Linked DNA regions of Homo sapiens: all the other regions are linked to region 1. The links come from fine-mapping of genetic effects on gene expression. A gene starts in region 1. Each other region holds a variant in brackets. All regions are shown on one strand. Distances are from middle to middle.

Evidence for each region. PIP is the estimated chance that this variant, and not a neighbour inherited with it, causes the effect.
Region 2: its variant is fine-mapped to the expression of SPTBN1 in whole blood (INTERVAL, PIP above 0.99).
Region 3: its variant is fine-mapped to the expression of SPTBN1 in whole blood (TOPMed, PIP above 0.99).
Region 4: its variant is fine-mapped to the expression of SPTBN1 in whole blood (INTERVAL, PIP above 0.99).
Region 5: its variant is fine-mapped to the expression of SPTBN1 in whole blood (TOPMed, PIP above 0.99). The same link has a PIP of 0.9 or more in blood mononuclear cells, monocytes, neutrophils and non-classical monocytes.
Region 6: its variant is fine-mapped to the expression of SPTBN1 in whole blood (TOPMed, PIP above 0.99).

Annotation. Positions count from the first base shown.
Region 1 is chr2:54,453,432-54,458,505 of GRCh38, forward strand. SPTBN1 (spectrin beta, non-erythrocytic 1) reads left to right here and starts at 2,896. Exons shown (of 36, transcript NM_003128.3): 1 at 2,896-3,087.
Region 2 is chr2:54,666,924-54,671,997 of GRCh38, forward strand. SPTBN1 (spectrin beta, non-erythrocytic 1) reads left to right here. Exons shown (of 36, transcript NM_003128.3): 35 at 681-723; 36 at 1,428-4,523. The coding sequence ends at 1,646. The region is part of intron 1 of SPTBN1-AS2 (SPTBN1 antisense RNA 2); the gene reads right to left. Among named protein-coding and RNA genes, the nearest start is that of SPTBN1-AS2, 11 kb to the right of the region's middle. The variant A/AT (reference allele first, on the strand shown) is at 2,317.
Region 3 is chr2:54,646,326-54,651,399 of GRCh38, forward strand. SPTBN1 (spectrin beta, non-erythrocytic 1) reads left to right here. Exons shown (of 36, transcript NM_003128.3): 23 at 1-150; 24 at 806-936; 25 at 2,661-2,865; 26 at 3,290-3,664. Among named protein-coding and RNA genes, the nearest start is that of SPTBN1-AS2, 31 kb to the right of the region's middle. The variant G/A (reference allele first, on the strand shown) is at 2,894.
Region 4 is chr2:54,606,633-54,611,706 of GRCh38, forward strand. The region is part of intron 3 of SPTBN1 (spectrin beta, non-erythrocytic 1); the gene reads left to right. Among named protein-coding and RNA genes, the nearest start is that of SPTBN1-AS1, 50 kb to the left of the region's middle. The variant G/T (reference allele first, on the strand shown) is at 2,571.
Region 5 is chr2:54,557,740-54,562,813 of GRCh38, forward strand. All of the region lies in intron 2 of SPTBN1 (spectrin beta, non-erythrocytic 1), which reads left to right. SPTBN1-AS1 (SPTBN1 antisense RNA 1) reads right to left here and starts at 966. Exons shown (of 4, transcript NR_185881.1): 1 at 1-966. RefSeq lists a silencer at 364-503 and an enhancer at 2,505-2,674. The variant C/G (reference allele first, on the strand shown) is at 2,716.
Region 6 is chr2:54,675,933-54,681,006 of GRCh38, forward strand. It overlaps SPTBN1-AS2 (SPTBN1 antisense RNA 2), which reads right to left and starts at 4,113. Exons shown (of 3, transcript NR_186176.1): 1 at 3,892-4,113. All of the region lies in intron 1 of LOC105374653 (a long non-coding RNA gene), which reads left to right. The variant G/A (reference allele first, on the strand shown) is at 2,709.

The DNA.
Region 1 (5,074 bases):
CAATTGGGTTAATATAATATAACCAAGGAAATACTTAGAGTATCATTCTCTTTTCTAAACAAAACAGGTTGTAGTAGACAATACTGTTTATCAATACCTTTTTATTTTATTTTATTTTATTTTATTTTTTGAGACAGAGTCTCGCTCTGTCACCCAGGCTGGAATGCAGTGGTGCGATCTCGGCTCACTGCAACCTCCGCCTTCCAGGTTCAAGTGATTCTCCTGCCCCAGCCTCCAGAGTACCTGGGACTATAGGCGTGTCTCACCATGCCCGGCTAATTTTTGTATTTTTAGTAGAGACGGGGTTTCGCCATGTTGGCCAGGCTGGTCTTGAACTCCTGACCTCAGGTGATCCACCCACTTCAGCCTCTCAAAGTGCTGGGATTACAGGCATGAGCCACCGTGCCCAGCCTTCCCCTACATTCTGAATGGAAAGTTAAAATGACAATTTATATCTGTAAAAATTTTGTAATAAAGTATTTTGATGGGAGATAAAGCCATATGCAATCACATGGTTTTAAAAGTGGAGAGTAGTATGTTACAAACATGATATTGAAGACTTCTAGGTTCCTTTATATCAACCCTGATTCTAATATGAGAAGAAACTAAGCCGCTTCTGAGATACATGGGAATAATCCTTCTGAGCTGTTATCACTGCCTAAGACTTTTTATCTTTTTTAGATTTTGCCTTCCATAAAAATGTCTTCTCCAATAATCTTTCCAGTTGTACTATCTTTTCTTTGAATTGTTACTTCTTTTTGGTCGTTGGTACACTGAGTTCTCTAGGGTGATTTTTTGCACCTAAGGGTAAGAATTCAAAATTGTGATGCAGGTATTTACAGTAGAACTCTGAATCCTTGTCTTTCACATTTTTGGAATAATTACTGGGGCTTTACTAGAGTACCTTGCTAAGGTGTGTGTGGCCTTTTTTTTTTTTTTAATTAAAAAACAACGTAAGTGGGAGTGGAATGGGGTAAGGGAGGTGAATCATTCATCAAATGAAAATTTATTTAAATACCGTTGTCTGTGATAAAGGAATAACCATTTCAGAATAACACTGGAAGAATTAATTTAAATGGATGCACTTCCCAATATTGTTACTGTTTTCTTTGGTATTTCATTAACATTGTGAGTGGGGAGGTGCTGGGGTCCATGGTAAAAAAATAAGTAAGTGAAAGGCAAACAACTTTGCTTTCTAGTGGATTTCCCTTATTACCTAATGAGGGCAGCAGCTTACAAGTTGATTGTGTTCAATTCAACAAATTTGTTTTAGTACCTAAGTGCCTGCTATATGTACAGAGTGAAGAAAGAAATAACCCTACCTTTAAGAGAGTTTACGGTCTGGTTGTGTTGATTCACCTTCTGAGAAAAAATGTTATTTGCTTTCCTCAATTTTTTTCCTATCAAAAGTAAACATAGGTTCAAACATTCAAACCTATGAAGGCCTAAAAGGAAGAATCATCTTCAGTTTGCTGTGACGATTTCACTGAGTTTTATTTTAAAATATTCATTTAAAAATACATACAAACATATAAACCCATCAGGCCAGGTTCTAGTGATCTGAGATATAAGCATGATACAAACTACTTGGCTGCCGTGTATTTTTGTTTTATTTTAATCCAGGTGATCAGGTCTGTATGGGGAAAAAGCCCTGGGGCTTTTTCAAACAGGAAGGGCCCTCCTCCCTCTGAATGCCCGCAGTGCCGCCCTGTGCACTTTACAGAACAAGGAGAAAGTCAGTTTCTTCAAACTGCTTTTCTAAAGAGCGTTTCCATTCGTGGTCCTGGTGATTCCACCATCTTTTCTTCACAACAGTGACGGTTCTGGAATTTCTACACAGCCTGAGGGGCTGACGGGGTAGACCAGGTGACTGGGAAGGGGCAGTGGCACATGACAAAAATTTGAGGAAACGTCCAGTTTCCGTTTCAGGGAATGCGCATAGGGGAAAACGCAAGTCCCCACGCCATCACGGGGCCCTCCACCGCGGCCGGACGACCCCTCTCTCGGGAGTGACTGGGGCAGGGCACCTGGCCTCAGGTTCGAGCGGAGCCTGCACTGAGAGGCAGGAGTTGGATGAACCACTTGTAGGGTCTGCTCCCAGCTACCCAAAGCGAAAGGGTGGGCGAAAAAGCATTTGCAAAAGAATACATTAACCTCACAAGGAACGACCCCCACCACCCATCCTCCAGCGCCCAAGGTTTCCCACGAAGAGGTCGCCGTCGCCCTTCTCCAAGTTGGGTAGAACCTATAAGGCATCACCAACTGCATCTCAAACCAACCAAGCAAGTGACGCTCCAAAACCTCCCTAAATACCCTCTCTCCCCAGCATTCCGAACGCAACATCAAGGGCGAAAAGAGGCTGCACAAATCACGTAGAAAATTAGACCGCCTCTTTCCATGGCGATAATCGAATTAGCCTCAAATTAAACGTGAAATTGGCCCTCTCCGGCTGTGGAGACAAAGCCCCTATTGTCCTGCTCGGGTAGCGGCAGCAGCAGTGCCCACCCCGCCCCGGCCAGCCTGGTCGGTCCCCGCCGCTGGGAGGATGAGGTCCGGGCTGGACCCGGGAAGAGCCTCAGCTGGAGAGGACGTGGACGCGCCCGAGGCTCGGCTCCCTGGGCGGCTGCGGGGCTCCGGGCAGGAGGAGAGGGCGGGCGAAGCAGAGGGAGCGGGCGGGAGTGGGGAGGGAGGAGTGCGGAGGGCGGAGGGCGTGCGGGAGGGATCCCGGGAGTGCGCTTGTGTGTGTGTGCGCGCGCGCCCGCCCCGCGCGCTCCTCTCCCCGCCCCTCGCCCCCTCCCTGCGAGCGCCCTCCTCTCCTCCTCCCCCCGCCCCCCGCGCTCCCGCCCAGCCCCCGGAATCAGTGCCGCTGTTGCCGTGCAGGCTGCGGATTCCTCCAGTCCCTCCCTCGGCCGCCTCTCCTCCCGGAGCGAGCGCGCAGCCCTGCGCAGCAGCGCCCACTGGTCCCGTCCTGTGAGCCCCGGCCCCAGCCGCGGACAGACCCGCGGAGTCGCCTCCCGGCCCACCCGCCCGGCCGCCGAGGAGCGGGAGGAGGACGGGACCCCGGCGCCCCCACCCCATCCCCGGGAGGTAGGTAGGGGGCCCGAGGCAGGGAGATGCCAACTCACTGGGGCTGCCTCCCGGGTGGGCTCCGCGGCGGCGGACGGGCGGGAGGAGGGGCGCGGGCCCAGGGCCGGAGGACGCCGCTGCCCGCCTGCCCTGCGCCCGGGGAGCCGCGTGGGGGCAGGGAGGCTGCAAAGCCCGGGCGGGGGCGGCGCGGGGAGCCCGGGTCGCGGGTGCTCATTGGTACTCGGATGATGCGGGACGAGGGGCGGCAGGCTCTGCGGTGAGGCGGCAGCAGACCCGCCGTGCGCACCGCTGCCGTCCGGCCCCAGCCCCGGCGCGGCGCGGCGATTCCTCCTCCCTGCCTCCGCCGGCGCCTCCCTGCAGCCGGGCGCGGCGGCCCCTGACGCGGAGGCCCCTGGCGCGGAGGTGGGTGCGGAGCGGACAGCGGACAGCCGGAGGGTCTATTTTCAGGTGCCCTCTCTGTGGCCCCGCGGGTGGGGAGCGGGGGCGGCGGTGACAGGGCCGGGCTCTGCGCGTAGCGGTGCAGGGGATGCGGCCAGGCGTGGTCCCGGCTGCGCCGCGCTGCAGCTGAGCCGGAGGCGGCGGCCCCGCGCCCCCACCTCCGCCCCATCCCTGCGCTTGCTACCCTCGTGCGCCCGCCCCCCCCCCGCCCTTTCTGCCGTCCCCACTCTCCCAGGGCTGGGCGTGAGCCGCCTCCGGGCGCCGAGCCGCCGCTGCGCCCGCCCTTCAGCTCCTGCCACCCTCTCTTCAACAGGTTTGTCTCAGCGCAGGGACCCTCCGGGCCTGCTTTGGGTAGGTGGGCTGGCTCGTCATCACCCCCCACACCACGCCCACGGCCCTCTTTTAGGGGGCGCCTTCTCTTTGTTTTTGTGATAGGAAAGGTGCCAACTGCTGCCATCAGATGAGGAGGGGGTGGGGATCAGAACGCAAACCTCTGTCCATTATTTTTCCAATCGAAAGCCAGGCCAGATAGTAAGTGAGGACAGGGTGCGTGTGGGGGTGCTTCGGCGGAGCAGAAAATTGAATTCGGTGGGGTTTATTTGGGCGGGGATGTGCTTTTTTGGCAAGATGGATGGCTCACGGTGCCCTCGCCGTGATGCAGCACAATGCAGCAGTATCGCAGCTTCCTTGGTTCTCGCTGGCGGGGCTTGGCACGGCCGCTCGGCGCCTGCGGCCCCCGCCCGGCCCCACCCAGGCCCGGGGCTGCCCTTGGCCGAGGCCTGGAGCTGCTGCTACCTTGTCCTGCAGCTTCTGCTGGATGTGGCGTCAGGAGGACCAGGTCAGCTAGGTGTGAGCAGGGGAGAGTCTTTTCTTTTGGGATGATCCCTCCTGCACCTCTTCTTGGGCTGCGCTCTGCCGGAGGGGCGCCCTGCATCACCAGTGCAGGCAGAGGGGAGCCGGCCTGTGGTTGCGGATCGGAATCTGATCTGCGACCAGGGGACCTGAGCCATAGGGAGGGGCTGCAGGAAGGACTGGGCCCAGTGGTGTGCGGAGGCAATGTTGCAGTGTGGGGAGTCGCAGCGTTTTTCTGTGGATCGTCCATAATCTGTAACCACAACCCAGCTATGCATTAATTTTTTCTACGTGAAAAGTTGGTGTTTATTAATTGGACCTTCACAACTGTGACATTACAGTACCTCGTCTGTCTTTGGTTAATACCAAGTATGCATTTTTTCTGTAGGAAACCATTTTTAAATGAAATGATTAATGCATTTTGGGTTTTATGTCACTAAGACATTTATAAGTATATTAAAATTCAGTAGGTTGTTTTAAAAGGAATTTATATGTTTTTTAATGGATAGTAAATGATTCCTTTAGCTTGTATTTTGTTTTCATCGTTTGCTTTTTCTAAGTCAAGTACAGTTGCATTATTTGGATGCTTTATTAAGGATTATTAGGTGTATGAGTGTCATGATGGGGGCTAAATTGGTATTCAGATTTCTATTGATTGAGGTAGCCAAGTTAAGTGTCCGGGCGTAATTAATGGGAT
Region 2 (5,074 bases), 210 kb after region 1:
GTAGGACAATGCACCGGCAGCCTGGCTCCTTGGCTGCTTTCCCCTTTGTACTCCCTTCATGCAGCTTCAGAGAGCTGGGATATTAGCGAACGGCCCCTACCCTGTGTTACACAACAGTACCCTCGTCCTCTCCGCAGCCACAGAGTGAACCTGTGACCCTTCCAAGCCTGGGGACCTCCCAGTGTCACACTAATAGGGCTTCTTAATTCTGAGACATACAGTAGAAGAAAAGTTGAAGGACATTTTCTGTTTGCCTATTCTGAAACTCTGGAACATGTGAATGTAGGGGATACAAGCTCAGTAGCAGAATTTCAAAAGGGCTCATTGTGTTCAAAAGCTTTCTCCTGAACTCAGTTTAGACCAGTAAGTGATCAGGCATCCACAAGTGATTTTTGCCACAATAAACCCAAATGTTATGTTTGGGGCTTTTTAAAATCCTTCCATTGGATTGAAGCACAGGCTCCCTGTGTGTATCATTGGCGCGATTATATGGCTTCTTGATCTCCAGGGGTCTGTTGCTGGGCCTGGGCGGGTCCCCAGGCTTGGTGGTGACATATGTAGGTTGACGCTTCTGTTGTGACTCCTGTGGTCTACTTCTGTCCTGCATGGGATATGGGAGTTGGGGGATTTTTATTTCTCTGTAATTAAGTGGTGACTAACTTTCTTCCTTGAAATTACAGACTAAATGATGGCAATGAGTACCTCTTCCAAGCCAAAGACGATGTAAGTTTCTAAATGTTATTTCTCTCCACTACTTAGGAGTTTGCAAGTGTTTGTGTGATGATGGGCTTTATTCAGAAAGTTCTTCATGTAAATGATGATCAGTGATGGTTTCTATCACTGGGCTCCAGTCACCAGCACTAGAAGGTGTTTGGTTCTGTCTCTAGAAGGCAGTGAATATGATCTCACTGTCCCTTTGCCGAGGCAGGATCCCTTAAAGTCGATGGAATCTTTGCCTGTCCCCTCCCAGGGATGAGGCATAGTGAGGTGGTCCCAGGACTGGTTGTGGATCATGATGGGACCCCCGCTGCACCCTTCGCCAGCAGCCAGCTGTTTAATGGGTGTGTACCTCACCTCAAGGAAAGAGAGAGTCCATTGATGGAAAAACAACACCTGTAATGCTTTAAATGTGAAAAAGCACCTTCTAGGGTGGGATCTGACCACCTCACAGATTGAGACTGGTCTTCCAGCTGTTACAAGTTTGTAGGGCCACATACTAGGGTGATGAGTAGAACTGAATTCTCATGAGAAGCTGAACCAGGTTCCCTCTCCTGTACTGATAAGGCAGAGGTGCATTTGGGGACAGTGCCCAGAAGTGACTCTGCTTACCCCTCAGTTGGCCAGATGCGCCATTCCCAAGCCTTGGAGCCAGAACCCCTCATGCCTACTCTTAGTTGAGTCTCACCTGTGTCCCTTCCTCTGTCCAGGAGGAAATGAACACATGGATCCAGGCTATCTCTTCCGCCATCTCCTCTGATAAACACGAGGTGTCTGCCAGCACCCAGAGCACGCCAGCATCCAGCCGCGCGCAGACCCTCCCCACCAGCGTCGTCACCATCACCAGCGAGTCCAGTCCCGGCAAGCGGGAAAAGGACAAAGAGAAAGACAAAGAGAAGCGGTTCAGCCTTTTTGGCAAAAAGAAATGAACTCCTTTCCTTCACCTCCTGCCCTTCTCTTACCTTTTCAGTGAAATTCCAGCATGCAAGCTCAGAACCAACACATTACTCTCTGTGCCTAATGTTCCTCAATGTGGTTGATTTTTTTTTTTTTTTAATTTATAGAGCATTTCGGGGGGGGTGGGGGAAACACACCTAAACACTTTATCTCCAAGTTACAAAAGTTTGAGGTGCAGAGGGAAGGCCAGATTTTTTTTTTAATGAAATTATATAGATTAGATCTCAGTATTTAAACTGTTCCTCAATTTTGTGAGGCTGTGTTGGAAATAACCCGCCTCTAGTGCTGTTGGTATGCAAGGCAGCGGTGCTTAATCAATATTTCCTGTGCTCACCAGAGGCAAAATGTACCAATATCCTGACACCATTCTCTCTCCATTTACTTCTGGTGGTTACCCTGACTCTTGACTCTTAGAAGTGCCCGAGATGGGGCTAACCTTTATTAAACAGATCGCATATTATGATCTTGCTGCAGCCACAGTGCAGCTCCACATTAACTCTACAGACCAAACCATTTGTATCTGGCATCACTTACTAACACACGACATGCGGCTTTTCTGCATCAACTGCTATGACGGTTAAGAATGTCAGTATACAAGAAGGAATAGAAAACTGATACTGTTTTAAATAATCTGTAATTTCA[A/AT]TTTTTTTTTTTTGCTGAAATACATTATATTGTACGTTTGAGATAATTCTAGTACAAAGTATAATAAAACTAGATGTATAATAAACCCTTTAAATCATTGGTAAGTGTACAAGTGGTGGAACTGAAGCATTTACTGGACAAAGTAATGTTACTCTAATGGTTACTTGCTCGTGCGTTGCCACACTGTGTTATAATTTGCTTCATTTCCTTGCTATTTGATACATAGTGTGCATTTCTCTGTCACTGTAACTATTGTAATGACAAATTTTCATCTTACTGCACAATCAAAATGACATTGATAGGAATGAACTCCAGAGGCTGGGCCTGAACAGGGAGGTGGTCGCTCAGGCCTGGTGCTCAGTCGTACGACCTGTACCTCTCAACTTTTGCCCTATCTGTTAAATATATGCTATGTCATTAAATGCTTTTAAATCTAGCACGGTGACTAGTTGTTGTTCTTCCTCTGCTGCGTGTGCATGCCCAGTAGGGAAACTGCAAAGGGAGAAATGACAAACAAGAAACATTTTACAACCAGTCTGGGCTCACTTTTGCATTTTTTATGCATGTCTGGTGCACAAGCTTTGAAAACTACAGCAAACAGTAATAAATGTGACTGTTTTGTAGTTATACATTCAGGCTTTATCTTTTATTTATGAAAAAGTTACCAGAGCACTTGTGAAACCTGAACTCTGAGATAGGGGTTGGCAAATTTGTTCTGTAAAGGGACAGAGATAGTAAATATTTTAGGCTTTGTAGGCCGTAACTGTCTCTGTTGCTCAATTCTGCTGTTGCGTAATACAAAGGCAGCCATTGACGGTATGTGAATGCCTGGGCATGGCTGTGTTCCAGTAAAACTATTTAAGGACATAAATTTGAATTTCATATAACTTTGACATGCCATACAATATTTTGATTTTCTTAATGATTTCAAAATGTAAAGTCTATTTTATACAGATCAGACCAAAAAGAAGAAAAAAAAAAAACAGGCAAGAGGTTAGGTTTGGCCCATGGGCCATAGTTTGCTGACTTCAGCATAGAGTCGTGGGTTATTTACAAGTGACATACTTTTCCTGGGTTATCTGGGTATGTTGACTCCATGCCACTTGCATAAAGCAGCAATGGATATTAGTATTATGGATGTCCAGTAAGTTATTCCACAAAGACCATGCCTAAGGTGGCATCAGCCCTGGGCTCCACAGCTGCGTGGCATCAAAGCTTTCTCTTAACTCTCTTACCTCTAGGCAAACTGAGACCTCACCATCCTCTCCCCTGCTTCCCACGACAGTCCTTTGCCCTTGCCATGCTCAGGGTTGGAATCAAGTTGTTCTATTCTCAACAGACCAAAATGTTTAGTTAAGGCAAAGTATCTTGGAAACAATTGTGATTAATTACAGTCTTGTACTCTTGACAAAGCTGTGCAGATGGCAATAAGTTCATACCAGCAATCCTGGAGTCCCATAATAAATACGTACATGTGGAACATCGTGCACATAATTTCAACAGTTCGCAGATCTGTAGTTATGAAGCCAGGGTTTGGTGGTATTTGCTCTCTCTTGGTGCATTTGATAAGGATCCACTGAGGCCTGAATGTGGAAGATGATGGGCAGCGAGAGGAGCGTCAGAAGACCCCAGTCAAGACGTGTTCGCCATCAGAGGTTACAGGCCGCACAGCCTGATGAGCTTCAAGCCTGGCAGGGTAAATAGTTTTTGGGTTTTTTGTTTTTTTTTTATTCTTCCACTATCATGTTTTTTGAGGATTTTGCATATTTCTTGTTGCCATAATGCTGTGCTATTTTACCCTGATTTTCAGTGATACAATATGGGTGACAATACTGGCCCCTCCATAAATCTGAAGAGTAAGAAGTAGTGAAAATAAGGCTTAGGATATGAAATGGCGTTGTCACTTGAATCAAGGCCACTTTTTGTCCTACTTGAGCATCTCAAGTTGGGATGCATCTTCTGATGGCACTTCCGGAACTGGCTGTGGTTTTTTTGGGTGTACCGAGAGTGCCAGTGACTGTGCTTCTTACAATTCCTGGCATCTTGAGTAGGTGAAACACTGTATCAGACTGGGTGATGGGCACATTGTCATTTCACCAAGTTCCTGGAACTGTTAGAATTGCTTGTGTATGGGGATCCTATGTTAGTTCCCCTGGATACATTGTTTTATCAGTCGGAATTCTTAAATAAAGACATACTTCCCTTCATGTAGTGGTGCAGTCCATGTAGAAAAGGCAGGATCAATGCTGGAGTCTTTCCCATTATTTGCATTACTTTCCTATAATCAGCGTTATTTATGAGTTGGTTCCTATCCTCTAAAGATGAACAATTTTTTAAATATTATGAATTTATGGGCTTAAATATATTTGAGTTTTCTGGTGAAATCCTCGTTTTTTGGTGAATATGTTTTATAATTTTGAATTGACCTTTCTAAACATGGTCCATAACACAAAAACATATTTTAACAAAGAAGAAAAAAGACTTCTTTCCATCAAAGCTCAATAGAGATTTCTGTCTATTGAAGATCATGGTGAAATATTTCATTTTCCACTAGAATAGTTTAAAATTATTCATTTGCTTTATTCCATGTTATAAAAACTCAGAATAGCAATACTAATACTACCACCACCAATAACTGAGAACAGTTTTTTTTTTTTTTTAACTCTTTATTTTGCAATACTTGTATACTGACATGCAGTTGTAAGAAATAATACAGTGCTGTTTACGCAGTTTCCCCCAGTGGTAGCTTGCAACACTA
Region 3 (5,074 bases), 190 kb after region 1:
CTGTGGGGTCTCCTCATTGAGGAGACAGAGAAACGCCACAGGCGGCTGGAGGAGGCGCACAGGGCCCAGCAGTACTACTTTGACGCTGCTGAGGCCGAAGCCTGGATGAGCGAGCAGGAGCTGTACATGATGTCAGAGGAGAAGGCCAAGGTGAGAGGAGGCGGGAAGCATCCCTGTCCCAGGAGAGCCTCAGATTCAAACCCTGGGCACACTTTCTGCTGGCGGCTCTGTCTGTATAAAAACTTCCCTTGTAGCCTTTGAGTGTTAAGGGGACACCATGTGCATGAAGGTGTCTGAAATCCAGCTGCTGGTTTCCCTTTGGTGCAGCATTTTCTTATCTGAATCCTAGTGTGCCATTAAGAACAGGTTCATCCTTTCATCTTTGAAATATGCCAGAGTCCTTCCTGCTGTCTATTTATAGGTTCCCTAAACTTTACAAAATACAGGATGGCTTGGAGACAATTTGAAAGTATTGCAAGGTTCCAGGAATGCTGCCATTTACATACTTGAGGGACCTTGAGGAATTCCAGCGAACCAGGCACACTTGGTCTGCCCAAGCTTTTCTCTGAGAGGGGCCCTGCTCATTCTGCGTTCTCCTTGTGTTTATCTTCTGCACAGGCTTCTGTGGTCCAGTCCATATGGAAGCTCTTGGAACACTTCTGTGTTCCACTGTCCGTACTGCACCTCTGGAGTTTTTCTTTCTACTGATCCTTCCTCCTACCCTGCTGAGCAGCTGGTCTGTCACTCCTTAAGGGGTAGGGCCAGAGGGGACCGCTATGGTTGTGATGTTCTCCTGTCTTTGCAGGATGAGCAGAGTGCTGTCTCCATGTTGAAGAAGCACCAGATCTTAGAACAAGCTGTGGAGGACTATGCAGAGACCGTGCATCAGCTCTCCAAGACCAGCCGGGCCCTGGTGGCCGACAGCCATCCTGAAAGGTGAGCGCTGCTTCATGAGTGTGAGACCCGGCTCTCGATTCCTCTCAGTTAGGGTCTCTTGCTAACCCCCACCAAAAGAAAATGTCAGCATTCATCATGACTTGCTGGTAAGGCAAATCTTTGAGAAGCATTTTTAAAACAGACCCATCATTTAAAACATCCTATCATGATTAGGATGGGTGAACTGTTATATTAGGAAATTGCTCTTGTGGGTTAAATATCTCCCGTTGGCCAAGGCTCTCCTGAAAGAATATTGGTGTCGTGAGTCAAAAGTACAGGTTGACTAGGCTGGGCAGTCAACGTAAAGTGGCTTACACTTGTAATCCCAGCACTTTACCAAGCCAAGGTGGGAGGATTGCTTGAGCCCAGGGGGCCAAAGACCAATCTCGGCAATGTGGCGAAACCTCATCTCTACAAAAAATACAAAAAATCAGCTGGGTGTGGTGGCACACGTCTGTACTACTCAGCTATTCAAGAGGCTGAGGTTGGGAGGATGGTTTGAGTCCAGGAGTTTGAGTCTACAGTGAACCATGTTCACACTGCTGCACTCCAGCCTGGGTGACAGAGTGAGACCTTGTCTCAAAAAAATAAAAATGATCAGAAGTACAGGTTGACTTGCATGGTGGATACAGATAGTCATAGCACTTACACTTGGGTTGAAAAAGTCATCCAGTTTAGTAAAGTAATTACTAGTTTTAAGAGGAGCATTAGACAAGAATGCATAGACCTGTAAAATGAAGGGGCTCCCAGGAAGAACAAAGTGATAACACCTCCTAACTCTTCGATATCAAGTGATTAGAACACCTTCGAGGAAAAAGAAGAGGTGAGTGTGTGGTACTCATCAGGCCCCTGTATTAACTTCCAAAGCAGTCATTTTAGGATTTTTGTGTAAATGCCTTTTATGACTTGGAAAGGAATTGGCCTTGTGCATTTAACCAGGGCAGGTTAGGGGAGATGAGGTCAGTGGCTCTGTTGGTGTAGGAGGTTCTTAAGATGTTCATGATCAGGATTCCCAGGAAAGTGGCCTTCCTAGTCTCCAGGGATAGGCACCAACATGTCCTTTGTCTCTGATATTCTGGTTTGTAGACCATCACTCTGGGGAGAAGTTGGAGGGAGGGGGATTCAGTCTCCTGACTGCGCACCTGGGAATCATGAGATGGAGCAGCCGGTCCAGCCCTCCTAACAAGGATGGGCACTCTGCCCAGAGAAGGTAGAGGGCCTTGCGTGCCACACTGGCTGTGTCATTTGTCCCTCTGGCAGCATGGTACCAGAGAATGCAAGACCACTCTGGATTTTGCATTAACTTATTTTCTCTTTTGTCACCTTCCTGACTGGGAAGATTTTGCATTAACTTTTAACATCAAAGGAAATCCTGATTTGCAGAGCCAGAGGTGCAGAGAGAATTTTCCCCTTTCCCCGCTAAATTCTCCTGCCCCCACTATTCACTGCAGCAGAATGAGGCACTACCCATCCCTAGTGTAATAGTAGGGATAGGTGAATGTAGTTTACATATTGGCTCTTTTGTTTACATATTGGCTCTTCACGACTTCAAATTGTGGCCAATTTCAGAATTTTATTTTTCATGCTAAGTGGGTTAACCAGAGTTTCCTTTGAGAAATATGATGTAATATGCTCTCCCATTATCTCCACCTCATTTGTTTTTCCCCTGAAGAAACTTGACATTTAAGATCCTTTTTCTCCCCATTGCTCCTTTTCTTTTTCAGTGAGCGCATTAGCATGCGGCAGTCCAAAGTGGATAAACTGTACGCTGGTCTGAAAGACCTTGCTGAAGAGAGAAGAGGCAAGCTGGATGAGAGACACAGGTTATTCCAGCTCAACCGGGAGGTGGACGACCTGGAGCAGTGGATCGCTGAGAGGGAGGTGGTCGCAGGGTCCCATGAACTGGGACAGGACTATGAGCATGTCACGGCAAGTACTTGAGGCAGTGCATGAGTTG[G/A]TTGTGCAGTAAGCGATGGTGTGGAAGGCCATTTGCATTCCTTGTCTGTGAGCAGATAAAATGCCCTGGACTCCAATCAGAGGTCTTGGGGTTTAGTTTTAAGGTGGTGTTTCTTTTATAAGCTGGTGACTCGCATTTAGGTTGGCTAACCTCTCTGTGCACCCCTTCCTCCGGTAGTAAAAGGAGGTGGAGGTAGTGCCTCACTCTGCTGCAGTGAGCAAGAAAGGAAACCCAGTTGCTAAGAGGTTCTCGAGCTAAGATCTATTGTTCTGAAGTCATGAGTATTATTGGCTACATCTTGCTTAGAGGCAGTTTCTTTCCAAAGGGTATTCATGTGATCAAGAAATACAGAGTTCACAGTGGGCTCTCTGATTTCCTTACCCATCCCCGTTTCAGATGTTACAAGAACGATTCCGGGAGTTTGCCCGAGACACCGGGAACATTGGGCAGGAGCGCGTGGACACGGTCAATCACCTGGCAGATGAGCTCATCAACTCTGGACATTCAGATGCCGCCACCATCGCTGAATGGAAGGATGGCCTCAATGAAGCCTGGGCCGACCTCCTGGAGCTCATTGACACAAGAACACAGATTCTTGCCGCTTCCTATGAACTGCACAAGTTTTACCACGATGCCAAGGAGATCTTTGGGCGTATACAGGACAAACACAAGAAACTCCCTGAGGAGCTTGGGAGAGATCAGAACACAGTGGAGACCTTACAGAGAATGCACACTACATTTGAGCATGACATCCAGGCTCTGGGCACACAGGTGGGTATGGCAGCCACCCAGGGGTGCTGGGGAGGCTTTTTCTCCATAGAACATCTTTGGGCATCTGTAAGTATCTCCCTGTTCCTTGGCTCTTCAAAAGAATTGCCCCAATTAAGCACATACATGTACCCACTTTGTAATAGTGCTCCATTTGGGAGAACTTATCAGTCCATAAAGGTCTACGTTTGCCACATTTGTGAACATTAGATGAGTGCCCCCATGATTAAAATAAATAAACCAGATGCATACACAGATGTTTGCAAGTTATAGGCCTCAGCAAGTGTTTTTATTATGTTAGCATATCCATCCAGAACAATTTCCAAAATAATATTTTACTATTTTTCATCAACCAGGTTCTAAGTTGTATGTCTGGAAAAAGAAAAAAACAGGATTCTGACATTTTATCATGCCTCGTCCCCAGTATGAAATGACTGGCACTAAGACTTTGTTTAAAAGATGTTTGACAAAGTAGTAACAATATAACAGAATCTAGTGTAATCACTCTCTAGTTTCCTTTCTGATCTCTGCACAGTTTCTTGTTTAGTCTTATGCCTTTTAGTTGAAAAACAAATTGTATTTTTTTTCTTCTAAGTTTCATGGCCCTAGAGAAGAAGCCAATTTTATTAAAGATGTTATCCCTGATTATGTCAAGGGTTCTTGTTGTTAAGAGTATATTGAGTATCTAAGTTATCTCAGCTTTTTCTGTTAAAGGCCAAATAGTGTTTTTCGCTTTATGAGATACATACTCTGTTGCAGCTCTGCCCTCTGTCATTGTAGAATAAAGCAGCCATAGACAGTGAGAAGATGAATGAGCGTAGCTGTGTTCCAATAAATCTTTATTTACAGAAACAGGCCACCCAGATATGGCCTTGGGCTGACCCAGTCTAGTGCCTCAGCCTCTAAATAGCTTTGGTATACTTTGGGATTTGTTCTATGAAGGGACCACCTTGATAGTTGTTCTCTCTCACTTCCCCTTAATTCTTAATTCCTGTCACTATGATGGCAAGTTTAATTTACCTCTCTAAGCTTTGGTTCCCTAATAGTTTAAGGATTGAGGTGCAAAACATATGACATAGTGAGATCTCTAGAAATGTTTTCTAATTATTATTATATAACAAAAGTTTAGGGAAACATGGGATATCTAGAGATAGAATTAGAAAACACCTTGACAACATAGGTCTTTCCTCTGCACCTCTAAAATCATTTACTTTTAGAACTGCAAGACACTTGAGAGACAGTGGAGTTGCTCTCTCATTTTTTCATTAAATCCCTTCACCTCATTAGACTTAGAGATGAGGAAGCCAAAGAAGGGTCTCGGAACATCCAGGGTGGGAATCTCGTCCCTCGAGTCTGATAGTCTGCACCTCACCATACCCACTGGGCTATGATGTTATAGCAGTGAAAAGGATG
Region 4 (5,074 bases), 150 kb after region 1:
AATAGTCACGTTTCAGCATGAGAAATGATAGCTGATCCAGGAGACAAAAGGAAAAACTTAAAGAGCACACATGAGAGCCATATGCAGTTCTGTGACTGCTGGCGGGGAGAGCTGCTCCACCCACCTCTTCTAGGGCGGCACCGATTACACAGGCATCCCTTTCTCGGATAGGAGCGTAATGGTGTCTGGGCCAGCTTTAGGAGGCTGACGGGTGTACCGTGGAGAGAGAGCACCAGTGTTACCTCAAACAGCACTTGCAGAATCAGAGTTACAGAATTTTAGATTAAGCCCACCCGTATTTTATATCTATTTTTTCCTACCTCGTTAGATTGCTTGATTTTGATGCAACCTGGCATTGCACAAATAGCAAATTCTAGCATTTCCCACATAACCGAATTAAAATCATTTTGAAGTTTCTAAAGGCAAAATCCACCTCTTTCTTTTTTTGGGGTAAGGAGGATATCACATTAATGTGAAAAGCTTAATGTTTAAAGACATTTCTTTTTCCATTGCTATTATGGTCTGGTTCTGCATCTGCAGATTTAACTGACTGCAGGTAGAAAATATTCAAGGGGAAGAACAATGAAAAATAACAATACAGAAATAAACAGTGATACAATTTTTTAAAAATACAGTATAACAACTATTTACATACCATTTATATTGTATTAGTTACAAATAATATAGCCATGATTTAAAATATATGGGAGGCCGGGGGGCTGGCTCACGCCTGTAATCCCAGCACTTTGGGAGGCCAAGGTGGATGGATCATTTGAGATCAGGAGTTCAAGACCAGCTTGGCCAACATGGTGAAACGCCATCTCTACTAAAAATACAAAAATTAGCCAGGCGTGGTGACTGGTGCCTATAACCCCGCTACTTGGGAGGCTGAGGCAGGAGAATCTCTTGAACCCAGGAGGCAGAGATTGCGGTGAGATCGTGCCATTGCACTCCAGCCTGGGCGACAGAGCGAGACTCTGTCTCAAAAAAAAAATTAATAAATTAATTTTTAAAGTAGATGGGAGGATGTGCATAGGTTATATCAAATACTGTGCCGTTTTATATAAGCGACTTGAGCATTTATGGATTTTGGTATCATTGGGGGTCCTGGAATCAATCCCCTGTGGATACCAAGGGACAAATATATTTGAAAATAAAATTTTTCTACTTGTGGTAGGCCTCTGCACATAATCTTATTTCCTCAAGGTCAACCACATTCTTCTGTTTTTACTTGTCCTTTTTTATAGGAGAAAAGAAAGTGAAAAATAATAATCTGAGACTGGACAGACTTAAAATGGCCGCTTGTTACCCAAGTAACCTTCCTTTCAGACGTTTTCCGTACAGCACATAGCTGAGGATCTTAACTACCCAGGGGAAGAGCAGGGAATGGACAAGATACTAAGGTAGGGCTGGCTGCTGCCCTTAATTGCGTGTACCTGGGTTGCTGCAGCCTGGCCCCCTTTCCCCTGTGAGGTCCGCTCAGCACACACCAAGCCCAGTCTGTCTGCTGGCATTCAGTTCACTGTGCACATAACTCTGTGCTCAGAACTGGACCAAAAACCCCTGAGAATATAGAAGTATAAAGCCTCATCCTTGCTCTTAGGAAGCGAACAGTCTAGTTGGAAGTAATAAGAGCAATAAATGAAACAACAGCAAAATTATAATGATGAGTTCCTGGGCTCTGTGGTCCAGCCTGTTAGTTGTAGAGTTGTGAGGAAAAGAAGAGCTGTGAGAACCAGAATGATTGGAAATGGGAATGTCTCCGGGAAGGAAAGATGGGCCTTGGCCTGAGCCTTGGAAGGTAGGTAGGTGTGATGAGGTGAAGAGATTGGGAAGTCAAGATGATGGGTCACAGGCTGAGTGCGTTCTTCTACATGTGGATGTGTGCATCCTCCTGGCATCTTTATGAGATGGTGACATCAGCTCCAGGTGCAGCCTCTACTAGAGGGGGAGTGATGGGAAATAGGAAGGAGAGAAGGATGGAGCCAGATGGGCGAGGGCATGAGCTTGGTGTTGGTACAACAGATAATAGAAACCCATTTTGTGTGCGTGTGTGTGCATGCGCGCACGAGTGCGCGCATGCACACACACAGTGGATCCTTGAACAAAGCAGGGGGTTTAGGGGCACCAACCCCATGCCGCTGAAAATCTTCCTATGCATTTGATTCCCCCAAAACTTTTAATAGCCTACTGTTGTCTTATCAATAATATAAACAGTCAATTAACATATTTTGCATGTTATGTGTATTACATTACTGTAGTCTTAAAGTAAGCTAGGGAAAAGAAAATGTTAGAAAAGGAAGAGAAAATATATTTGCAGATTCATTAAGTGGAAGTGGATCATCATAAATGTCTTCATCCTTGTCTTCACGTTGAGTAGGCTGAGGAGGAAGGTGGGGGGATTGGTCTTGCCATCTTGGTGTAGTAGAAGTGGAGGAGGTAGAAGGGGAGGCAGAAGAGGCAGGGACACTTGGTGTAACTTTATGGAAATAACACAAGCAGTCTTGAATAATTGGAACCCTTGGAACAAATTCAATTTGTTTTCTGGTACTGCTTTTACATCCTCTTCC[G/T]CATCATTTGTCATCTTTTTGGAGACACTCATTTTCATCAAGTCGTCTTCCGTTAATTCTTCTGATGTGGTGTCTGATAGCTCTTGAATTTCTCCAAGATCCGTATCATGAAAACCTTCACCCCTCTACCTTTTTGCCATATCCACAACCTCTTTCATAATTTCCTTCATTGGCTCTGTCATAAATTCTGTGAAGTCCTGTGTAACATCTGGACATCATTTTCTTCAGCAGGAATGTATTGTTTCAGGCTCGATGGCTTTCACAGCTTTTTCTGTAACAATGATGGCATCTTCAGTGGTGTAGTCCTCCCAGATTTTCCTGATGTTCTCTCTGTTGGGGATTCTATTCCATAGCATCAACAAATCTTTCCATAGAGTTTTGTGTAGTAATGAGCGTTACAAGTCCTTATGACCCCTTGATCTAGAGGCTGAATTAGGGATGTTGTGTTTAGGGGCCAGTAGACCATGTCAGTGCCTTCAGTGTTGAACTCATGGGGTTCTGGGTGGGGGCATTATCCAATACCAAAAGAACTTTAAAACGCAGCCTCTTACTGGCAAGGTACTTTGAGACTTCAGGAACCAAAACATCAGTAGAACCAATTCAGAAAACCGGTTGTCATTGTCCAGGCCTTCTTTTTGTACAACCAGAAGACTGGCAGCTGGTATTTATTTTTTCCCTTCAAGGCTCAAAGGTTAGCAGCCTTATGAATAAGGGCAGTCCTGATTATAAACCCAGCTGCATTTGCACAGAACAGTAGAGTTAGCCTATCCCTTTATGCCTTAAGTCCTGGTGCTCACCTCTCTTTCTCTTACTGGGCTTTTGTGAACAGGGCACTTTCGTCTGCATTAAAAACTTGTTGAGGCAAGATACACTTTTCCTTCATTGATTTTCTTAATGGTGCCTGGGAACTCATCTGCTGCCTCTTGGTCAGCAAAAGCTGCTTCTCCCAATTCCTTGACATTTTTTAAGCCAAACCTCTTTCCGAAATTATCAGACTGGGAGCTCTGTGAACCTTTCCTGGTTCTGAGGGCTACCCAATTAAAAATTAATAGTCATGCCATCCTTTGCTGGTGTTACATTCTCCAGCCTTAGATCCTTCACCTTCCTATGCCTTTAAATTGTCATATGATGACTTCATTTTTTCTCAAATCATATTAGTCCTTAGGTATGCCTCTCTTATGGCAATCCTGCACTCACATAAAAGATGCATTTTTAATTAATTCATTATTTATTTATTTATTTTGTAGAGACGGGTTTTTGCCATGTTGTCCAGGCTGGTCTCAAACTCCTGGGCACAAGCAGTCTGCCCGCCTCAGCCTCCCAAAGTGCTGGGATTACAGGCATGAGCTGCTGCACCCAGCCAAACGCTGCATTTTCAATATGAGATAAAAAGATATTTCACAAAAAAGTGCAAGGTCTTTGCATCTGCTGGTGTAGCTTCAGGGATGGCTTCACAAATTTCCTTTTCTTTTTTTAGTCTTCAAATGGTGGGCCACCACAACTGTAGACCTCAATCTACAATACATAGCAAGCAGTTCATCCTTTTCTTGTAATGTCATGACTTCTCTCTGCTTCTTGGGAGTACTTCCAGCATCACTAGTGGCACTTTGGGTCTCATGATATTAGTCAAGGTTTACAGTATTGCACTAGACACTGTGAAAAATACACAAGAACTGTGAGAGATGGCTTTTTACTGTGATACCCAATTTACTAGAGAGACCACGTGGAGATGATTAGCATCATAGGCATTTTAAGTAGGCACTCAACAATACTTGAGCTCATCACAGTAGGAGTTAGAGATGGCTCTGAAATTACTATAGTAGTACAGTACATACCAAGATTTAATACTGCTCAAATGGTGCCATTACAATCTGTGTTTGTGTGTATGAGTTTTGATAATTTTTAATTTTATGACAGATTTGTATATATTTTGCGGTAGTAAATTATAAAATAGACTAACATCTATATATATTTTATGCATTCATGACATACCTTTTTCTTAATTTTTCTGGTATTTCTAGGCTAGGCCATTCATCTGAATCTTTTCAAATTGTCACCAATCTCTAAAAAGTTTTCCAGTTTATTTATTGAAAAATATCCATGTATAAGTGCATTTGAATAGTTCAGGCCCAACTAAAGGTCAACTGTGTATATTTACTATATTTTTATAGTAGATGTGTGTGTGCTTTTACAGGAGACGTATATATACTTCTATAATAGTATATTTTATAGTAGATGTATATATACACATATGCATTATCTACTCTCTCTCTATATATATATTTTTTGTTTGTTTGTTTTATTTAAAATGTTCACCTTCCAAGGGCCTCTTTTACGTTTTGATAAAACTGGGTAGAGGGAAGAAACATTTGGGGTATTTAAATTGCACTACACTCATTTTTTTCCCTTTTCCCCTTCTTTTCAGTAAGTTATACTTCTTTACTTAACCTTCACCCCATCCCTCCACACACAACCACCACTTGGAAATTCTTCTGATTTGATGG
Region 5 (5,074 bases), 100 kb after region 1:
ATAGGCCCGTGTTATTCCAGGAAACCACCGCCTTCATATCCCCTGATGGCAGCGTAAGTCAGCCGAGATTCTTCACTGAGCCCGAACTTACACCTCCCCTGGCTGTGGCGCTGCACAGCGCCCTGAGAGTGACTTTGTCTGACTTCTTCCCGGTGGCTCGCCGGGCCGCCGCCGCGTGGTTGGCGCCAGCGCACTGGGGCAGTCGCGCGCGCCCAGGTGCGGGCCGCGTTACCTCAGCAGACGCTAGAGAGTGAATGAGCCGCGCGGGCCCGGGACCCTTGGGGCTCTTCACTCTCCAGGCCGTCCCGTGGGCGCGCTAGCCTTTTCAAGTGATAGTAATCGGAGACTTTTCCGTTACATGAGGCTCAACAAAAGATTGTAATTCCAGCAGCTCTGTTTGGGAAGGCACTACCGCGGCGAGTCCAGGGCCCGGCCGGGGGTCGGCGGCTGCCGGGCGGCTGGGGCGACCGCGGACCGTGCGGGACCGGTAGGGGGTCGCGGGCCGGCTAGGCTCCCCCGCGCCCCTCCTCGTGGTATAGCCTGCATTTCTAATACAATGCTGTTATGCTAATCAGGTGACATCACCGCCCAGCACACGGCGAGTGGCTCCTGATAAAATTACAAACCGGCGGCCGCCGCGGGCAGCTGGGAGGAGGTGTGCGCGCTGCGCCCGCGAGCTCCCGGGCTCGGCAACCGTGGCATGCTTAGGATTGGCCATATTTAAAAGTTCTGAAGTAGAACCTGCGCCTCCTCTCTGCTTCTCCCTCCTCCTCAGTAATTTATTTCGAGCTTCCAGGCAAGGGCCACGGAAGAAGGGAAAGCAAGAAATTAGATGCCTGTGTGGTAACTCCTCGCGGAGCTAAGGTGGACTCTCTTGCAGCCAACTTCCCATCAGATCACCCTGCTGGACTTGCAGACCGGAATGGGGCTCGCCTAAGGAGCCGAGCGCTGCGGAGGCTGCTGCGTGTTGGATGGGAGTGGGAGGGGGCTGGAGCGAGATTTCCAGGGCGCAGTCCTCCGGGGCGTTACGCCGGGCATAATGGAATTGCAGAGGACGTCTAGTATCTCCGGGCCGCTGTCGCCGGCGTACACGGGGCAGGTGCCTTACAACTACAACCAGCTGGAAGGCAGATTCAAGCAGCTGCAAGGTAAGCCCCCTCCCAAAGGCCGGGCCTGTCCTGGGTGCCAACGGGGGTTCTTGGAGGCTTTATTTGTGACCCTAATGAAGACGGGCGGCTTCACAGCTCGGCCCCAGACCCTGTGGTTGGCTGCGGGCACCCCATTCACGACTTAGGGAAGGCAGTTGCTCATACTCCACTCCAGAAGAGCTACCATTTGGAGTCCCTGTCTCTCCAGCACCTTTTTGGCTTTCTAGGTTGTCAGATAACTGCTGCACACACATTTTCTTTACTTTTAGCTAACTTTACCTCCTAGTAGATCAGTGCTCATAGACTTATTAGTATGCAGGTATTTGATTCCGGGTCGCCTCTGGCTCCCAGCCCCCAGCCTCTTACCTCTGGGAAGCTTTAAAGGTGTAAAGTGCCGTGCTCAGACCCAGTCCTGTAGAACAATAGCAAAGGGGAGGAGGGAGGGGTCTTTTTGTTCCTAAGCCTTTGGTAAATTACAGTTTTTTATTCAGAAGCTTAATTTTAATTTTTCTGATGTGTTGGGAAGAGCCTTCCCATCTATTTAGTGGGCTATATAATTTCTAATGAAAGCCGGTTATTGTCATTTCAACCCTATGGGTTGGATTAGTTGGATCAATTACAGGTTTCTTGGAGTCTTTTTAAGGCTCAGACAATTGAATGAGTCCAATATTTTACTGAACATATTTTTAGGGAGAGCAGAAGCCTGTGTGTGCACCAGTGTGCTGTTTTCCCTGCGGCCCCTGCACCCCTCAGCTGTCCCTGCCCAGCCAGCAGGCCCTGGCCAGCAGTGTCTCAGAGCTTATACATGAAAAAAGGTTCCTAACTGAAAACAGAACTCCTTCCGTTTGGAAGCCCCTGGAGTCAGTAGTAGGCTGGGAATGGCTCTAGCACTGTAAAAAAGTAGTATTCGAGGACTGTGTGTTTCTTATTTTAACCTCCTCAGTGCTGCAAATGTGGTTCCTGTGAGGAGGAGGAAGGAAGGAAGCCGCTCAGCCCTAGAATGTTTTTCATTGGGAAGAGGGGGGAGGATGTCTTTCATTCATTGGTTTATTTGTCTTGTGAAATAGTTGACAGTAATGACACTTCTCTGGAAAACGAGGCAGAACAGGACGTGATTTTAAACATTTGCTGGGCTGTGCCACATTCCTCTGGCAGTTAGCTCAGAGGAAGCTCCCTTCGCTCTGGGGAACGGTTCTGTGTCTCTTTGGTTCATTTCTCTTGAGCTCTTCGGCAGTCAAATTTGCTTTTTTGAAAACTTAAGCTGGGGGCGCTTGCAAGTAGTAAATAGAGGAGTTGGGGTGGGGGGGGGCGTTCATTATCTAGGTTTGTTAGGGGCCTCACGGTTTTCGGGTCGGAGAATCCACTGCGTGCTCCTCCTCTTCCCCTGGCCCGGACTCCCAGCTTCATTGTGTCATCCCGCCTGGGGGAAAGCACCCACCGGGATCGTCAGCCCACTCCACCGCCAGCCTAGCCTGGAAGTCTCAGAAAAAAAGCAAAACTGGGAGAAAATAGAAGGTGTGAGGGAGGAGTGCACCCCTAGGCCCACCCATAACAAAAGGCTGTTATT[C/G]CGAAAGGGCTGAGGAAGGTTTTAAAACTGCTCGCCGAGAAGGGTGGAGCCTACACACAGGAAATGTCTTAACTGTCCTCTCTGGACAACGTAAAGTTTAAATTTAAAAAAAATCATGTGCCCCTGATATTTTACCTCATACGCTGTTTCTCAAGGAAATCCCTTCGAAAGGGGTAAGCTTCGTGTTTTGTGTGGTAGCTTTAAAAATAATTTTTTTTAGTGTGACCCTTGTCTCCTAATTTAGCCCCAGTGACTTTCTTATTTTTAAATATTGTGGTTTAGGAGTTGCACAAGTTTAGTGTTGGTATTTCTGTAGCAGAAAACCACCCATGTTGAGGAATTGAGAAAGGGTGAATTAACTTTCAAGTATGGTGGACCTCAGGAGAATTACACACATTTGTCAGCATCCTTCAGAACAAATGAACCGATTGCATTTTAAACAATCCTAGGAGAATTTTGATTAAACACACACACACAAAACCTTTCTTTAATTCCCATCCCTGGTTTTGTGTTTTGTTTGGTATTTGTAGTTCTGATTATCACATATTTTTGATAACATATAATTTCTATCTGCTGATTTAATTTTGTACATTCCTGCAAGGGTGCCTTTTTTTACTCTTCTGAGTATAATCTTTCCTAGCACATAATCTCTGAATATTGGCAAAATGCTCCTCTGAAACTGTATTGGGTTTTTTGTTTTCGTTTTAAGAGACAGAGTCTCACGCTGTTGCCCAGGCTCTAGTGCAGTGGCACAATCACGACTCAACAGCAGCCTTGAAGTCCTGGCTCAAGCCATCCTCCCACCTCAGCCTCCCAAGTAGCTGGGACTATACCATGTCTGGCTAATTTTTAAATTTTTTGTAGAGACAGAGTCTCACCATGTTGCTCAGGCTGGTGTTGAACTCCTGGCCTCAAATGATCCTCCCGCCTTCACTTCCCAAAGTGTTGGGATCACAGATGTGAGCTACCTTGCCAGTCCTGTACTGGGTTTAATGCCTCTGATATGAACTTATTTATGTATTGTCTGTGCCTGATAGTGCTATGATTTTTCTGGAGTTGTTTCTGCATTTTGGCTGGTTTCAAGTTACTTTCCACACTGGGTCCTAAAAATTTCAGGAGGTGTGCCATAGAATGAGATTTGGAGTTCTGGCTAAGGAGAATATAATTTTAAAATGAGTCTGGTCTATTTAGATAAAATGGTTTATAGCGATTTATAGTTTATAAATTTATAGAGATATTATAAATTTATAGTTTAAATATAGTTATATATAAATATAAATCGAGTTATATATTTATATATAAATATAGTTATATATAGTTTAAAATAAAAATAAGGATAGTCATAAATATATAGTTTATAGAGATTTATGGTTTGTAGAGATTTATAGTTTGTAGAGATTTGTGGGTCAGTAAATAAGTGTGATTAAAAAAAAAACCTCATTGAGATACAAGAGTGATGGCTTTATCACACGAAGCCTCCTGGCATAAGAAGACAAGCCCTTCAACCTCTGATGGCTGTAGCATTCACCACCAACACCCAACACCCAACACACACACACCCACCCCTTCCTCTTTTTCTTTTTCAGATTTTCACCTGCAAAATTAAGTTATCACTTTCCTCAGAATCAGTTCATGTATCGTATAAAGTTGTATTTGATGTTTTTTTCTCTGTTAAATAAAAGAGGAATGTTGAAATACAGCAAAACCCAACCTCCCATATTTAGAGAACTGTGTAGTAACAGAGGTGCAGGTTCATGATAACCATCTCTCCACTTCACATCAGCCAGCTTAACTCCTCATGAGAGAACACTCATCATGCCACTTTCCCCCTCAGAAACAGTTGCTTGTGCCATTGTGTAAATGAAGTTCCAGAGTCTAGCTTGGCCTTCAAAGATTCTCCGTAAAATGGCCCCACTCCACTTACTTCTTATTCTAATATATTCCATTCAAATCTGGTAGGCAGGCCTACAGCTTTTTATAAAACCCATCCCTGGGTTTCACGCTTATCTTCTACATTTTGCCTCAAATGCCTACTCTTCCATTTCATCTATAGAAATGCTTACTTTTCTTTTCTTTTTCTTTTTTTTTTTTGAGGCAAGGTCTGCTTCTGTTGCTCAGGCTGGAGTGCAGTGGTGTGATGATCTTGGCTCACTGCAACCTCTGCCTCCCAGGCTCAAGTGATTCTCCCACCTCAGTCTCCCCAGTAGCTGGGACTACAGGCACTTGCCACCAAACCCTGCTTTGTGTGTGTGTGTGTGTGTGTGTGTGTGTGTGTGTGTGTTTTGTAGAGACAGGGTTTCACCATGTTGCCCAAACTGGTCTTGAACTCATGAGCTCAAGTGATTGGTCTGCCTCGGCC
Region 6 (5,074 bases), 220 kb after region 1:
CAGTCAGGTGCTGCCCTTAGCACTTTCCCCATGTTAACTCGTTCCAACCTTCACAATGACCCTGTGAGGTAGAGACTTATTAGTGAGGTGTTGTTAGACCCACAACCTGAACTGTCAGCCCAGAGAAAAGAAGACTGAGCTAAGCCAGAGCTGGTAGAACCAAGACCACAGTGCTCTGAAGCTTTAACACGGTCTGGCTGACCCCAGGACTGACCTTCCCCCTGCCTCATCTCCATTCAGCTGCCTTGATATCTTGAGCTGAGAAGGAGGTGTGTGTTCAGGATCTCAGTGGCATCCTGCGCTGTGTAACAAGTGGATGTGTGAGTGTGAACACACTGCATAGGAAAAGGGAGAGAAGCCAGGAGCTCACGCTGGATCTGAACCTGTCAGGACAACTGATTGAAAAAAATCAGTCAGTGATTTAGGTATGGGACTCTGAACCACTGGTTTTGTTTCCACCATTTGTTTTCCTCCAAATGGAATGATTTCATCTTGCTAATATTAATAGGTAACCAACTATAAGGTTGTCCAGGCAGTGTGCTAAGTTTTCAAGTTGCGTTCTCATCAAATCCTTGCAGCAATTCTACCAGGCAATGTCTTCATTGTACAAAGAAGAAAACAGAGGCTTAAAGAGTTAAGTACTTGTACAAATCGCAGCTGGATATTTGAATTCTGACACATCTCTCCAGAGGCCACACTCTCAGACTACACTAACTGTCCCCCACCTAGATTCTTTTCCTGCACTTCTCTGTGGGCTGAGGAATGATGGTCATGGAACCAGTGCCAGCTGAGAGGGCATCTCATGTGTGTAAGCTGTTGCCCCAGTCGTGGGCTTTCAGAGAAAGGACTGGATACCCAGTGTCATGTCCACTCAACAGCCATGCAAGGCTGGGTTCTTGAAGCCACAGCTCTTCACTGACTCCTTGAGCATCCATGTGACTCTAGAGTTTAGCTATGCAAGTGCAAGCTTTGCTCTCAAATACATGTGCAATGTAATTAGAGGATAGCTGATGCCTGATTCACTGGCCTTACAAATCTGTAGCTGCCTGGATTTCAACTGTCAATACATGCTGAAGTCCTTTTCGGATCAAATTTAAGTTCAGATAAAGAGTGTGTGGTGGGGACACAATAAATATTTGGAAGGAAGAAAAGATGGAAGGAAAGAAGTAAGGAAGGAGGAAAGGTAGGGCAGAAGGACCCTCCAAACAGCTGGGTACTCTGTAGCCTCAGAAGGTTGGCAAGATAAATCACAGCTCAGCATAAAGCCTATGTCGGTGTCTGGTGTTTAAAAAGTGGGGAGGAGAGGCTCAGCCCACAGCCTCTGTGGACAGGTTTTCTTTCATCTGCTTTCTAGCCAAAGGATGTGAAGACAAGCTACAGGAACTGATGGGCTGCAGCTGAGATAGGTCAGATTTTCACTCTAGCCCCCTGAACTGGCCACAGGGCCCCTTCGTTCCCTGACTTCCATCATTGCTCTTTCCTGTGATGTCTGACCTCCCCTGTGTCACTGCATCTGACTCTTGCTGCCTCCTCAGCACCTGCGGCCCCATCTCCTCCAAGTTCTGAACTGCACAGGCATCTTCTGAGGTACAGCCATGTTTGGGTGCCCAGCCGGCTCTTCCTGCAGGTCTTCCTGCTCTCCTGATGTCCCTCAGCTCACAACCTCTCTTTTCTAGCAGAGCATAGAAAGACAGGAGCTGACTTCTGGATGCCTGGTCATCATTTCCTTCTTTAGTTCCATTTTACAAGCCCAGGTGCTGTATGAAAAACAGGGCATGCTAACCCTGTCTTCCATCCACTAGGGCGGAGCTGACGGTTAAAACAAGGCTCTTTCCCATGCCAGCAATTAGACCTCCATTTCTCAGAAGAGGAAAGAGGGGAAGCGTGAACAGACAGAAGGGCTCATTTTCTGTTTGTCAAAGGAATAAATGGATTAAGGATCCTTGCATTTCAAGATGCATTTCAAGATTTCAGAGATGGAGTCTTGATAAGACAGTGAGAACTGACTGAGAGGGAGCTGCACCCAATCACGGGGCCACGCACCCAGGGACAGTTGCACCTATATGGATTGTTTCCCAGCCAAATGATGTTCTGACCATTAACTCAGGCATCTGGGATTCCCCAAAGAAACAGATGAGTAGCATCACTTGGGGGACTTTATTTTTAAAAATAAAAATTCAGTTCCTTAAATAGGCATTTGGTGACCTCATGTTTTTTTAGTGAAACATGTTGGTAAGAGATGCAATATTTTGAACAGGAAAGACAGTATGATAAAAGCATTCTTGGGCCAGGTGTGGTAGCTCACACCTGTAATCCCAACAGTTTGGGAGGCCAAGGCGGACAGACCACTTGAGGTCAGCAGTTCAAGACCAGCCTGGCCAAAATGGCACAACACCATCTCTACTTAAAAAAAAAATTAGCTAGGCCTGGTGGTGCACGCCTGTAATACCAGCTACTTGGGTGGCTGAGGCACGAGAATCACTTGAACTTGGGAGGTGGAGGTTGCAGTGAGCTGAGATCATGCCCATGTACTCCTGCCTGGGCAACAGAGAGAGACTCTGTCTCAAAAAAAAAAAAAGCATTCTTCCTTTTTTTTTTAACTCTAACAACCCACTGGCCCACATGCCTCAAATCCTACATAGTTAAACATCACAAGTACCTATTCTGCATACAATTTTTACTTACATATGCATCATAAACATTTTGCT[G/A]TGTTTCTACAAGACTTTGTGATGCTTATTTCAAGGACTATTGGTAGTTTTCCACAAGTTGATGCAGCATCAGGCATTAAAATGCTCCCCAGATGCTGAGCATTTAGCAATAACACCATTCTCCACCAAAGAGGCTTGTGTTCCCAAAATTACAGCTCTTGGTTCTTTTTGAGAGCAGTTTTCTGGGGGCATAAACTGCCCCCTGGTATGGCTACTGCACAGACCATATTCCCCTTTAATCACGTGCCTTGGTGCAGGGTACGCATCTACTAACCACTTTCCCCTTGTGGAAATGTTCTCCCAGGGGAGTCATTCTCCTGCCCAGCCTCAGAGAGAGCCTTGATCTCAGCCGCTCTGACAGCTTCAGTCACTTTACATTTCAGGAAACTGAATATAGGTTCTAATCTCTTTGCTCTCTAAAAGCTTCTGGGGTCCTAATGCAAATTTTATCACCCCTAGTTTAACACACTGTAAGCCCACATCAATAATTTTCAAACACAAGCACACAAATAATTTTTATCTTACCAAACACCCTCCCAAGCTTCTTGGCAATTGCCAGGTCAGAAGCTAAGGACACGTTTACAGATTTTTGCTAAATATTCCTATTACTCCTTTCCAAATTACTTTCCAAACAGTGTATCCATTTAGTTACTAGCTATAAACAAAGGTACAGTCAGTCCTCACTTAAGGTTGTCAATATGTTCTTGCAATCTGAAAGTAAGTAACACCAATTTTACCACAAGCAAATTAATATTCCTATGGTTTATTTCTAGTCACAAACACATCAAAATTCTAAATAAAAACCAAAGGCCGGGCGCGGTGGCTCATGACTGTTATCCCAGCACTTTGGGAGGCCGAGGCGAGTGGATCATAAGGTCAGGAGTTCAAGACCAGCCTGACCAACATGGTGAAACCCCGTCTCTACTAAAAATACAAAAATTAGCCGGGCATGGTGGCGCATGCCTGTAGTCCCAGCTACTCAGGAGGCTGAAGCAGGAGAAACACTAGAACCTGGGAGGCAGAGGTTGCAGTGAGCCAAGATTGCACCACTGCACTCCAGCCTGGGCAACAGAGTGAGACTCCGTCTCAAAAAAAAAAAACACTTCTGATATTAACCACTGAAATAAATATGAGCTATACATACATTTAAGAAAGATAAATAAAAGCAAGTAAGATAACTTACTCAATAATAACAGTTCTCTAGGTTGCCGGAGTCTCCAGTCTCCGGTTGCTGTAGCTCATTCCAGCAGCTCAGGGCTTAAAGTAAGAACCAGCCCTGAACAGGACACTGTCACATCGCAGGGCACACTCACACACACCCCACACTCACACCAGGACCATGTAGACATGCCGGTGAACTGAACATGCACCTCTTTGAGGGGTGGGAGAAAACCAGAGCATCCAGAGCAAAACCCCTGTGGACGTGGGGAGAGCATGCAAACCACACAGACAGTGGCCCTGGCAGAGAATCAATTTTTTTCTCATCATTAAAAAAAAAAAAAAAAAGTTGAATGAAATGACATTATCTGAGGAACTGTTCTCGTTGTTGTGCTACAGAAACAATTGTTTTTGTTTTTAGTAACTATCATATGGCACCTCAAGCTGTGAGTTTCTTTGACTGCTAGCTAGGGTCAACTTTTTCTCCTGTTTTTGTCATCTTTCTTTTTTCTCTTTCTTTCTTTCTTTCTTTCTTTCTTTCTTTCTTTCTTTCTTTCTTTCTTTCTTTCTTTCCTTCCTTCCTTTCTTCCTTCCTTCCTTCCTTTCTTTCTTTTTCTTCTTTCTTCTTGCTTTTTTTTTTCCTTTTTGTTGAGATGGGGTCTTATCTGTCACCCAACCTGGGGTATAGTGGCATGATCACGGCTCACTGCAGCCTCGACCTCCCAGGCTCAATCGATCCTCCTGAGAGCTGGGACTACAGGGATGTGTCACCACTTTCTTTTTGAGTGAATTGAATTGTTCATTCATATCTGATTTACTGAGGGTTCTGAATCACAAGCCACAAAAACCAACTCTGGCTAATTTAGCAGAAAAGGAACTTATTAAGGCTCCCAGAATCTCCAGGAGGACAAGGGCACCAGGCTTAGGGCTTATACAGCCAGGAAAAATGTCCAAAGTCCAGCCTAGGGCAGGCTCCTGGAACTCGTCACTGGACTCTGACACTGCCAGGTGCCCACCATGACACCATACTGTGCGCAAACCCTGCTGTGGGAATTGCTGTCTTTGACAGCAACACGCTGCTGCAGTGACAGCTGTCCCTGCCACTGCCCTCACAGAACAGATTCTGCCAGGCTCCCCTCTGCACATGACCAGCCTCTAATTCAAAATCATGCAGGTGTACAATTGACAGATACTGGCCATGGATCTGT